2 linked regions of the Homo sapiens genome follow. The protein of the gene in region 2 interacts with the protein of the main gene of each other region in a biochemical or structural test. Each region holds a gene or a part of one and is shown on either strand. Other genes may lie near its edges.

What was found.
Region 1: the proteins of STMN2 (region 2) and RGS20 form a complex in vitro, tested with the Homo sapiens proteins (one study listed by BioGRID).

The regions. Positions count from the first base shown.
Region 1 is NC_000008.11:53,939,872-53,946,871, reverse strand, and holds part of RGS20 (regulator of G-protein signaling 20), read right to left. Parts: intron 208-7,000; coding exon 124-207; intron 1-123. UniProt on the Homo sapiens protein: Inhibits signal transduction by increasing the GTPase activity of G protein alpha subunits thereby driving them into their inactive GDP-bound form.
Region 2 is NC_000008.11:79,661,948-79,667,824, forward strand, and holds the end of STMN2 (stathmin-2), read left to right. Parts: intron 1-1,632; coding exon of another isoform or gene 1,633-1,714; intron 1,715-2,867; coding exon 2,868-2,927; 3' UTR 2,928-4,211; downstream 4,212-5,877. UniProt on the Homo sapiens protein: Regulator of microtubule stability. When phosphorylated by MAPK8, stabilizes microtubules and consequently controls neurite length in cortical neurons.

The DNA of each region.
Region 1 (7,000 bases), about 26 Mb from region 2:
ATTGGATATTACTAAATTACAGTTAGAGAAAGTATGTGTTCTGTTGAAACATACAAGGCAAAGAAAAGAAAGAGGTTAGTATTTCTGTTAGTTTAGTGAGGTAAAAAAAACGTGTGATTTCACCTTTCTTCCCAGGTTGGAAGATCTGCTCTGAGTTCGTGGGAAGCTATTGTGGGCCTCTGATCTTCCTGGTTTCTAACAGTGAGACTGCAAAAAAAAGACATTCACATGTTGACAGCTCAGTCCCTGCCAAGAAAAGATTTTTTACAAATACTTTAAAGAGAACTTCAGATCCCCAAGTATTAATAGAATTTCTTCCTCTACTTGGAAAAAAAAATGACCCCAGTTAGTTTTCCCAAGCAAACCAAAAGTGTGACAATAAGGTACTAGAAATATAAATAAACGTTGTGGTTTCTACTATTGAGAAAGAGTTAGAAATTATTGTGTTCAATTATACTTAGAATAATGATTTTTTAAATAAAAACATTCATTAGAAAATAGTAAAAAAGGGTTCGGCGCGGTGGCTCATGCCTGTAACCCCAGCACTTTGGGAGGCCAAGGCAGGAGGATCACTTGAGGCCAGGAGTTTAAGACCAGCCTGGGCATCATAGCGAGACCCTGTCTCTATTTAATACAAAAATTAAAAAAATGAAAATAGTAAAAAAGTAAGACTGTCAGGAATGTATTGGGGTTTCATTTCATTTTCTGCATCTTAAAAAGTATACATCCTCTAGGCTTTGTTTCCAGTCAAAATGGAGGCTTCATATATTTATAGGCAAATATACAAAAGTAGTAGAGAAAAATAAAGTGCATAATCAAAATCTATTGTATTTCTCTAAAGAGTTTGTTTTCTTATACACATTCTGTACATTTGTCTGTAAACTTATTCCAAGTATTTTTGTTGTTATCGTAAATGGAATTTGTACTTTTATCTCATCTTGTAACTGGTTATTGTTGTAATATGAATGCTATTTTTTTTTTTTTGGAGACCAAGTCTTGCTCTGCTGCCCAGGCTGCAGTGCTGTGGCGCAATCTCAGCTCACTGCAACCAAGCGATTCTTGTGCCTCAGTCTCCTGAGTAGCTGGGACTACAGGCATGTGCCAACACGCCCGGCTACTTTTTGTATTTGGTTTCACCATGTTGGCCAGGCTGGTTTCAAACTCCTAACCTCAAGTGATCCACCCACCTGGACCTCCCAAAGTGCTGGGATTACAGGCATGAGCCACCGTGCCCGGCCACTTTCTTAATCACTTTATTGAGCTATCATTCATATGCCGTCAAGTTTATCTGTTTAAAGTGTACAATTCAGTGGTTTTTAGTATACTCACAAAGTTGTGCAACCATCCCTACTATCTAATTCCAGAACATTGTCATCACCCCCAAAAGAAACCCCACCAGTAAGCAGTCACTGCTTATCACCTGTATCTCCCCACTCTACCGGCCCTAGGCAAGCACGAATCCGCTTCCTGTCTCTATAGATTTGCCTGTTGTGGAGCATACCGTATGTGATCTTTGCTGGCTGTCTCCTTTCACTTGGCGTAATGTTTTTGCACTTAGCCCATGCCGTAGCATGTATCGGCACTTCATTTCTTTTTCCAGTTGAATAATATCTCATTGTTTGGATAGACACATCACATTTCGTTTGTCCATTCATCAGCAGATAGACATTCGGGTTGTTTCCACATTTTGGCTGCATGAATCATGCTGCTATGCACATTCCTGTGCAAGTACGTGCGAACATATATTTGTGTTTCTCTCAAGTAGAAACCTCGGAGTAGAACTGCTGAGTCATATGGTAACTTGAGTTTTAACATTTTGAGGAACTCCCAAACTGTTTTACAAGGCAATTGCACCATTTCACATGGTAATATTTGAGGGATCCAATTTCTCCATGTCCTTGCCAACAGTTACTGTTGTCTTTTTTATTCTAGCTTCATAAGTGGGTGAGAAGTGGTATTTCATTGTGGTTTTGATTTGCATCTTGCTAATGACTACTGATGTGGAACATCTTTTCATGCATTTACTAGCTATTTGTACATCTTTGGAGAGATGTGTGTTCAGATGTTTTGACCATTTCTAAATTGATTTATTTGCATTTTATTATTGAAATGGAAGTGTTCTTCATTTTAAGACCTGAAGCCTACAGAGTATTATTTTAATGATAATTTTATATCCTTCTTATTTCTGAATTCTTCTGTATTTGTATCAGTTATAGCTATAATTCTCTTCGGGTTTCATCTGCAAATAGGAAGAATTTTACCTATTTCCAATTCTCAGGCCTCTAATTTTCTTGTCTAATTAGCTAACACCTAAAATACTTTTTTTTTTTTTTTGAGACGGGGTCTTGCTCTGTCTCCCAGGCTGGAGTGCAATGGCGTGATCTCAGCTCCCTACAACCTCCGCCTCCCGGGTTTAAGTGATTCTCCTCCCTCAGCCTCCTGAGTAGCTGGGACTACAGGCGCGCACCACCACACCCAGCTAATTTTTGTATTTTTAGTAGAGACGGGGTTTCACTATGTTGGTCCTGCTGGTCTTGAATTGCTGACCTTGTGATCTGCCCGCCTCGGCCTCCCAAAGTGTTGGGATTACAGGCGTGAGCCATCGCGCCTGGCCAAATACATTGTTAAATAGTAGTAGAGATTGTGGACATTTTGCCTTATTCATGATTTTTGCAGGAATGCTTTCAGCATCCCATCAACATGAAAATGGATTTTATCACTGACAATTTGGGTTTTCTTTATCTTGTTGCTACTGTATTTTCTATATTCTTTATTATATCTTTTCTTAACACTATTTTATAAAAGTTTTTCAGCCTGTTTTTAGCACAACTGTTTTATAAATTTTCAGTGTGTGTGTGTGTGTGTGTGTGTGTGTAGCTCTATTTTTCTTTAAAGGCAAAATCATTAGAAATGCAGGAACCCTTTTGACTTCTTTCTTTCATGATGTCAGGGCTAAATAGTTTCAGTAAATAATGGCTTCTTTAAAAAAAAATCCAACCAAAAAAAACTTGAGAGGCATCTGAGTGGTACGCTCTCTGCATGACTTCCGAGGCTTCTTTTGTAAGCAAAACACATTACTGCTCAGTGGGTATGAAAAAGCAGAGGAAAAAAGAGATGAATTTGACAGGAGTTCCTCAGAGAACCAGAAGCTGTACTGCAAACTAAATAATGCAAACTTATTTCAGCTTTGATATACTTTTTCCCTCATTTCAAGTAAGAATGTTTTAAAGAGACAATGTGGTTTTGAAAAAGAGAAGAATTTTTTTTTGTGAAGTTTTCTTTACCTCGGTCCACTGTTATTGTTACAGCAGACCTAGAAGATGTCTATAGTAGCCAAGATAGTTGCTCGCTGTGTTTTAGGAAGTTTCAGTAAAAGAAGACCCATGGCCAGATATATTTTGGTAAAATTTTGAGTGATAAAGAGAAAACTTACTAGAAAGGAAAAAAACTTTATATTCAACTGAACAAGAATCAGCATGCCTTCCCTTATAACACTAAATACCAGAAGGCCTTACAGCAAAATGTTGAGAAAGATTCACAAGTACTTAGAAAAGAAATTGCCATTTACTTTTCTTGAAAATTGACTTGACTATGTATATTAATATGGATAAATCTCAAAAGTGTGGTGAAAAAAAACAAGGAAATTCACTATTAAAACAGTTGAAGTTTGCTGTGTACTTTTCCCCATCTCATTTCTTCCTCTCTTTACCCTAGAGAGAGCCACCATTTTTAACTTACTGTTTACCATTCCAATTCATAATTATGCTACTATATTATATTCATAAACATATTTTTAAACATAGTATAAATGTAATTATGTAACATGTATTGCTTTATAATTTTTTTTCCCTCTAGCATATGAATTTATTTATTTCTGAGACAAGGTCTCACTCTGTTGCCCAGGCTGGAGTGCAGTAGCATGATCATAGCTCACTGCAGCCTTGAACTCCTGGGTTCAAGTGATCCTTCCACCTCAGCTTCTAGAGTAGCTGGGACTACAGGCACATGCCACCATGCCGGGCTAACTTTTTTTTTTTTTTTTTTTAGTGGAGACATGGTCTCGCTGTGTTGCCCCAGCTGGTCTCGAACTCCTGGGCTCAAACAATCCTTCTGCCTTGGCCTCCCAAAGTGCTGGGATTACAGGCATAAGCCACCACGCCTAACTTATTTATTTGTTTAGTTTTGTTTTTCTAGTATATGAATTTAAGTGCTGTATGGTAGTGGATTGTATAACTATACCACAATATATTCATCCATTCTCCTGTCTATACCCTTTAGAACCATTTTAAATTTTTCTCACTCAGATGAATGCTGTAGTGAATCTTCTCATACATGTCTCCTTTTTTTGCAGGGGTGTGAGAAGTTTTTCCAGGGTATAGGTTTTTCTTTTCTTTTTTTTTTGTTTTTGTTTTTCAGACAGAGTCTCACTCTGTTACACACACTGGAGTGCAATGGCACAATCATCATTCACTGCAGCCTCAACCTCCCTGGGCTCAAGCGATCCTCCCACCTCAGCCTCCTGAGTAGCTGGGACTACAGGTGTGCGCCACCATGCCTGGCTAATTTTTGTGTTTTATTTTTTATTTATTTATTTTTTTGAGATGGAGTTTTGCTCTTGTTGCCCAGGCTGAAGTGCAATGGTGCAATCTCGGCTCACCGAAACCTCTGCCTCCCAGGTTCAAGCGATTCTCCTGCCTCAGCCTCCTGAGTAGCTGGGATTATGGGCATGTGCCCCCATGCCTGACTAATTTTGTATTTTTAGTAGAAACGAGTTTTCTCCATGTTGGTAGGGCTGGTCTCGAACTCCCGACCTCATGTGATCTGCCGGCCTCGGCCTCCCAAAGTGCTGGGATTACAGGCGTGAGCCACCGCACCCAGCTGATCTTTTTTTTAAGGTGGGAATTGATTTTTGTATATGGTGCTATGTAGGAATATAAATACATTTTTATATATTTGGATACCAAGCAGGATGACCAATTTTCCTGGTTTGCCTAGGGTTTTCAGGTTTTCTGGGCTATGGGACCTTTCAGTGCTAAAACTGAGAAAGTCCTATCAGTGGGGATGAGTTGGTACCCAAATACCAAGTATCCTGCTATTTACTGAATAGTTCATTTTCTCCTTTGCTGATGTCACTTTTATCACGTGTTGGTAAGGTTTTCTAGATTTATTGTCTTTCACTGATGTTAAAACTATAGGGTGTATTTTTGGACTAATTATGAATAACATTACTTTTGAAAGAAAATTTTCTTTTAATAATTTTTTCTAAGAAAGTCTGAATTATTTGATTGTATGTCATTGACATGAGATTGTTTACAGCTTTGGTTTCACACTTTTTAACACAAAATTCATTGCCACATTTTATATCAATATTTGACCCCGTTGTATCTATGATTGTTACTTGTTTCCTGAGTCTTTCCTCTGGGTTCCCTTTTTTTCCTCTGAAGTAGGCCCTTTCTTCGGTTCTTTTAGGTTTGCAGGCAGTAAACTCGGTTGGCCTTCGTATGTCTGAGAATGTCTTATTTTACCCACACTCTTGAATTATGGTTTGACGGAGTTTTCAGTTACTTTTCTCCAGCACTTTGAAGATATTGCTCTATTGTCTCTTCTACACACACCTAAGTACTACAGAAGTGTTGGCTATGATGGTGATGATAGTGTCTTAGGTACAGATACTTATTTTATTCGTCCTACTTGTTACCTGTAGGAGGAGCCTGCTCTGGGACCTGACCCGCCCTCTAGCCTTACACTATCCCGGGACAATACGTTGTTCAGGTCAGCATGTCAGCCGCCTCCCACACCCTGCGTGAGGCAGCAGAGAAAGGAGGGAGCGGAAGGTTTGAACGTCAGCTGGAGTCTCACCTGCACCTGGACATCCTGCACATCTCTAGGAGGATGGTCTCATTTCCCCACTGAGACCTACTGGCAGAGTGAGAATATAGGCCCCTAAATGCAGTCTGGCCATCACTGGTGTCTTCCTCCTTTAGGGCAGGCCCTGGACACCCACGTGTTTCCTCTGCCCACCACCAGCGCCTCTCCTCTGGCTTCCTGCAGAGCTGTCCAGATTCCTACCAGGGGCTGAAGTCTCACCTTGACACTGCCTAGCTCTTGTCAGCCCCATGGCCACGTTTCCTCTTGCTGTGGGAATGAAGAGACCATCGGTATCGGGATCCCCTTGGTGGATGTTCTATTGCTGTGTCCCTTCCACCAGATTGGAACTTCTTGGAAATGAATACTAGCCTGAGTTGGGCAGGAGCCACCAAACTTCCCCGGGCATTTCATTTTCAACTCCACTCTCCTCCCCAGGGATCAGTTCTGTTAGTTCCATTTCACGGTTCGTGATCAGTCCATTATCAGTTTTTCTTCTCTTCCAGCAGACAGTGAGGTCTTGGTCTAACTTACTGCCAAGCCTACATAAATTTAGGATGATTTGATTGCTGAAAGTGGTTCACAAACTTGGCTGGCACTAAGCACTTTTCATATCCAAGATTCCAAAGATGTAACCTAAAGTTCCCATGATTTTTAGGTGTAAATTATCTCCTTTTCTCCAGACCTTTAACAGCTACTCAAAGGGTCACAGATGTTTTACATTCAAGTCGTTTCTTTCCTTTTTAAAGCAATGACTGTCTGTGTGTCTTCCTCTACCCAGTAAGTTAGCATATATTTTAATATTTCTCTCTCTTTAAAACACATATTTTGACATTTCTCTTTATTACAAAACAAAATTTATGAAATGGAAGCAGCAGAAGGTAAAATCCAGGCTCCCTCTACTTCATCGCCCTAACCTTTAAGACCTATCTTAGATCCTAAGCCTTCATTACCACAGGAGTGCCTCGAGTCCAATTCTTTCTAACCATTTCTGCCCAAATGTTGATAGTCAATCGTGAACCGCCTGAGGTTGTTCTTTAGTTGTTTAACACACGTTGGCCTGATTTGAGGGATCTGAGCATAAACCCCTTGAGAGCTAGACAGATGCAGCCTGTTGTTATTTCTTGGGTGTCCC
Region 2 (5,877 bases):
ATTTAATTAGGCTCATATGACAGAATTCCATAGATGGAATTGACATCCTAGGTCATATAGTCCAAGTCCTTGTTTATATTTGATACCTAGTGAGATTAAAGGGACATTAAAAAGTAAAGAAAGGAAAGACCTCATATTTCTTACCTTCCAGTAGAGAAATCTTTCTATGAAATCAGAGGAAAGAATTAGAGGACCAGAATTTTTCCTAAAATCAACTTTCATACATCTTTTTTCATATAAAAGGCATAGCTGCATACAATGCTAAAATATTGTATTACATTTCCTTTATATTGATGGGAGGAAGGGGGTAAATTGCAGAAAACATTGTAAATTTAGATATGCTTGGGCCTCTGACAGTGCCTAGCAAATATCAGGAGATCAATAATGAAATAAATATTATCAAAGAGTAGTCTTCTTGATGAACCTTCTCTGAGTATCACAACTGCTTTAGGAACCTCTAGATTCAAGGTCTAGTAATTGCAAACAGTGAGCTGATAAGAAAAACAGACTGTATGGGAAATTACATGCTTCCTGCATGACTGCCTTTTGTTCTCCCACATTTTGATATAAAGTCACATTAACAGTTCATGAGTAAATATTCGATAATGTGAACGTAAAGTGTTCAAATAATAGAGTGACTAAAATGCCTGAAAACAAATAATTTTTAATTAGAAACTCATAATCATTTATTTTCTCTTTTTCCACATTATCTCAAGCTCACAAATTATATTTATTCTTTCCTATGGCAAAATCCATTTTGTTAACACTAATTTTGAGTTTAACAAGAAGTGTACTCCAAAGTAGCCTAATAATACTAATTATAATGTTTCCTGCTATGTTATCAGTTTGAATTTATATGAATCTTTAGACTTGAGGCTTCTTTTTCCTAGCATAGTGATGGTCTGGGCTTTTTCTCAATTTTTGCCAGAGCTCAGCTCTCACTAATTAGTTTCTTTCTGCATGAGAAAAAGATTTTGCTTCATCTTTTTCCTTATAATAGCAGAACAAAAAGAAGAATCAGCTGCATCCATGCTAATTTCCCCTGTGACATTTCCAAACAGGATTTGATTTCTCTATGCATGCCTCTTTCCTTCTCTTCATGGTTTTTGAACATATACAAAAGCTCATTTAAACCAATTAAATAAAATTGTTTTTAATCTCTTTCTCTAGAGTCAACTTCCTGCTTACTCCAACTCTGTATCTTTGAAGGAAGTATAGGGTGGTCTATGCCTTTTTTCTCCCAGAATCTACACTTGAAAAGACACATTTTTCCATGCAACTATAAAATGTTCTCCTCACTCAACATTGAAATTGTATAGCAGTGATTAAGAGAGTGAGCTGTAGAGCCAGGTTCCCTGGGTTTAAATCCCACTTGTTAGTATCATGAAGATGGGCAAGTTACTTACCCTTCCTGTGTTTCAGTTTCTTCATCTGCAAAATGGGGACAATAATAGAATGTCCACTATAAGATTATTGTGAGGATTAAGGGAATTAATACAGGTAAAACGTGTACTGATGCAGGTCTGGTACACATTAAGTGCCTAATAAATATTCAGTATTATGATATAAAGAACCCTATAAGTGTAGACTCCTTGAGATTAATAGAGTTTAACGATAAGTTTTACTTTATAGCTGGTCAAGTTTATTTCTTCTGAACTAAAAGAATCTATAGAGTCTCAATTTCTGGAGCTTCAGAGGGAAGGAGAGAAGCAATGTAAGCAACATTCTACAGAAATATAAATAATACTACTAATAATTAGCATCTTAAAATTTCAATTCAATGAACATTTATTTAGCGCCTATGATATATGCAAGACAGTTTGATTTTAGTCATCTGATGTATAGCCACATACTAAAAAATACTGATTTTAGTCATCTGATGTATAGCCACATACTAAAAAATACTTCCTCCATCAGTTCCCTCCTCAGGAAGTTCAGTTCCCAATCCCAGGCTAGTACCTTGGTTCCTTATGTAAATAAACATCCACCAATTACATGCTATCTGCAAAGCACTCTGCTAGGCCCTGCAAATGGAAAAAAAAATGATAAAACATAGTCCAGGCCCTCAATGAGCTTACAGTCAAATATAATAGAGGAGACAAGAACAGAGAGGCTCATAATACAACTAGAATAAAATGACTGCCGAATAAAAGGAAAGATTTATGCAGGTGTTCAAATGGAAAGTGAGATAAGTTTGCAGGTTAGTCTTTGCAGTCTCATAAAAATCTTTATGGAGAAAAGGACAATGGTCATAGGGCTTAAAGAGTAAGTTTATAATCCTGACCAGTGGAGATGAAAGACTAGCATTGAAAATTGCATGACAAGACAATTCCATTAAACTGAAACATCAAGTGTGTGTAGGAAAAGATGGGGGTTATGACTGGAAACGTCACTTGGACTGCAATTATGAAGGGCCTTGACAAACAGGTCAAGAGTTTAAGAAGCAGTATAGAAAGTCTTCGTCCTGGATCTAGCCCTCCCAGAGTGTCCATCAGGATTATAAAGTCCTTAAAATATTAGTCAAAAGGAACGACATCATTAGAAATGATAGAGAAACAATAATGTGATGTTTTATTACCTTTCTCTGGATTTATACTCTGATCCTAATATTCAAAACTATCTTAATAACATGAACTTTTGGTCATAGTTTTAAACAAAAACAGTGTTAAATATATTTTTTAAAACACAGTAAGTCTTGTAAGATCTTTTCTAACATGACATTTTGCAGGGCCCATATTTTCCTTCTGAAATGGGAAAAATTCATAAAAGTAGACACCAAACTGGGTTACTTCTAGTCAAGCGCATGGTACGCAAAGGACCAGACAAAAAGGGCCTGTGACATTTCTTCTTCCTTTTGTGTTTTTTAGGAGAGGCATGCTGCGGAGGTGCGCAGGAACAAGGAACTCCAGGTTGAACTGTCTGGCTGAAGCAAGGGAGGGTCTGGCACGCCCCACCAATAGTAAATCCCCCTGCCTATATTATAATGGATCATGCGATATCAGGATGGGGAATGTATGACATGGTTTAAAAAGAACTCATTATAAAAAAAAAAAAACAAAAAAAATCAAAAATTAAAAAAAATCAATGCGGTCTCTTTGCAGAATGTTTTGCTTGATGTTTAAAAAATACCTTGGATCTTATTTTGTAAATACTTACATTTTTGTTAAAAAATACAAGTATTGCATTATGCAAGTTATTTCATAATCTTACATGTCCTGTAACAGGCTTTTGATGTTGTGTCTTTCCACTCAAATGAATTTGCTAGGTCTGTTCTTTTTGAAGCTCCCCATGTCTAACTCCATTCCAAAAGAAAAATGAGGTCAGTAGACAGTCTATGGTGCTAGAAACCCACCATTGCCTAATGACCTAGAAGGCTTTGTTGTCTCTGAGCTTGACTAAGACCATACCTAGATCACAGGTATTATGACTCCACATGAACCTTCACATTTGTTCGCTCATAATCTACTTACTGCCTAAAAACTACAAAACCAGGCTAAGAAATACCACCAGTCATAGCATTTACTTCTGCTTCTCCTGGATTATGTGCTACAAATGTGCTTTGGCTTTAGAAAGGGATGGATGAGAAGACAGACCTGAGACCAATCTGGGTAGAAGCAAAAAGTTGAACCTTTTAAAGTGCTGAACACAAATCCAAATTCGAATGGTTCAAGCAGCCGTGAAATCGCTCTTCATAAAGTGGGCTTAATTCTCTAGTTTAAGTTCTTTTGATGGAATGAATTAATTAATGTGTCAGGTGGCTTATTTGTGGATGCCATGATTGATGATGTTCATTTTAAGCTCTTACCTATAGTACAAGTACATGATGCTACTGAATATTTTTCCACTTGGAAACTGTGAGCTGGTTGTTGCATTAAAACACACATACAAACAAAATCAAAAACACTGCGGACTTTCACTCAAGCTGGTCTTTCTTCCCCAGTGTAAGGCAATCCTGCCTACTAACAACACCAACAACAAAACACTCCATCTGTGAAGCTGACGCAGTTAAGGGGGCTAGGCAGGGCATTTGTGCCAACTAAGAATCACCAGATACCCACCATAAGTACCTATCGCAGTTTTGAAGTCGTTTCTCCCCAACTCCCAACTCCTGAAGGTTGCTGCCTGCATATTTACTCTTCATTAGTGCTATTTTCCTGTATGTCATTGTGAGCAAGCTGTGATTAATAAAGAATTGGAGTTCTGTGAACTAATAAAGGTTTGGTCTGTTCTCTTGCCTCTTCATGTGTCTGACCCTGGAGTTCAGATTTTAAAAGGGCAGCCACTGAATTAGACAATCTCACAAGCAAAGAGATAATAAGGAGAGTTTGAAGGAAACCAGTGCCCTGCTGAGTCATTTCCCTTTGGGAACAGCAGGCCGCATCTCTTTTCTCTTGCCCTCTGATGGGCCAACACTGTGGGAGAGGTCTTCAATCTGCTCCCTTTAAAAACATACAGGACTGAACAAGATACCACAAAATGCAGACTGATAATTCTGAGGAAGTGAGCCCTTTTCAAAACATTGAAGGTTCCTGGCATTATCTCAAGTTCTCCCCTGTGGCCCACAGAACGCCTCCCCCAGCCTAGGCCGTCTGTTAAGATGTGATCCCTGACGTACTGCTGAATTTTGTACTGCCAATAAACACACTGCACACATGGGCGCAGCAGGGTCCTGTCAGTGACCCAAATGGATCTTACAGGACCAAAGGAACCACATCCAGTTTTAGCAGAAAATCATAAATAATTGAAACCACACAGATTTGTGAATAAGTACAGTGGGCTATGGTCCATAGGAGCTCTAACAAGCCAAGTTTAGGGTTGCGGCCACCTGGTCTCTATTTTGAATATCCTTTAATATTTGTGGGAATCTAATACTGCTACAAACAATGCCTGAGCTTGATGTGAAACACATGAGCTTCCAATGAGCATGAAATGAGTTGTCTCTTCATACTGGTTTTCTATAGCTTAGTTTGGAAAACATTACCCGAATTACTCATTGGGTCAGACCCTATGATAAGCCCTGGAAACATGAACATGAATGACCACAAGAAGCTCATAATCCAGTAGCTTATTTGGGCCCCAAAACAGCAAACATGATATGTTGGTCAGCCCTCTGCAGCATATTTGGGGAAAATGGATCATTTCTAAGAAGTTTCTGAAATATTAGAAATATTTGACAAACTTCTCATAGTACTTTGTATGAGAACTGAAACTGCTGACCAGTCCAGCTGCCTAATCTCAAAGATGAAGAAGCAGGCCGGGCACGGTGGCTCATGCCTGTAATCCCAACACTTTGGGAGGCCAGGGCAGGCAGATCACTTGAAGGGAGGAGTTCGAGACCAGCCTGGGAAACAAGGTGAAATATCTTTTCTACAAAAAAAAATACAAAAAGTAGCCAGGCATGCTGGGGAGTAACTGTAGTCTCAGCTACTTGAAAGGATGAGATAGGAGAATGACCTGAGCCTGGGGAGATCAAGGCTGCAGTGAGCTGAGATCACACCGCTGCACTCCAGCCTGGGTGACAGAACGAGACCATGTCTCAAAAAAAAAAAAAAAAAAAAAAAGCGAAAAAGCAGAGGAGGGAAAGGTGAGTGGTTGGCTCCAGACCACAGTGCCCACATCTCATGACTTCTTCTTCCCTTATTTGAGGTCCTCAGAAGAACATCTCCAAGTTGGGTGCAGCATATACTGCTTGGGTGATGGGTGTACCAAACTCTCACAAATAACCACGAAAGTACTTACTCATGTAACCAAATACCACCTGTTTCCCAAAAACCTATAGAAATAAAAAAGCAAAAAAAAATTTAAAAGAAAAATAAATAAATAAAAGAGCATAATTCACAATGGGGGGAAAAAAAGAACACCTCCAAACCTGCCAGA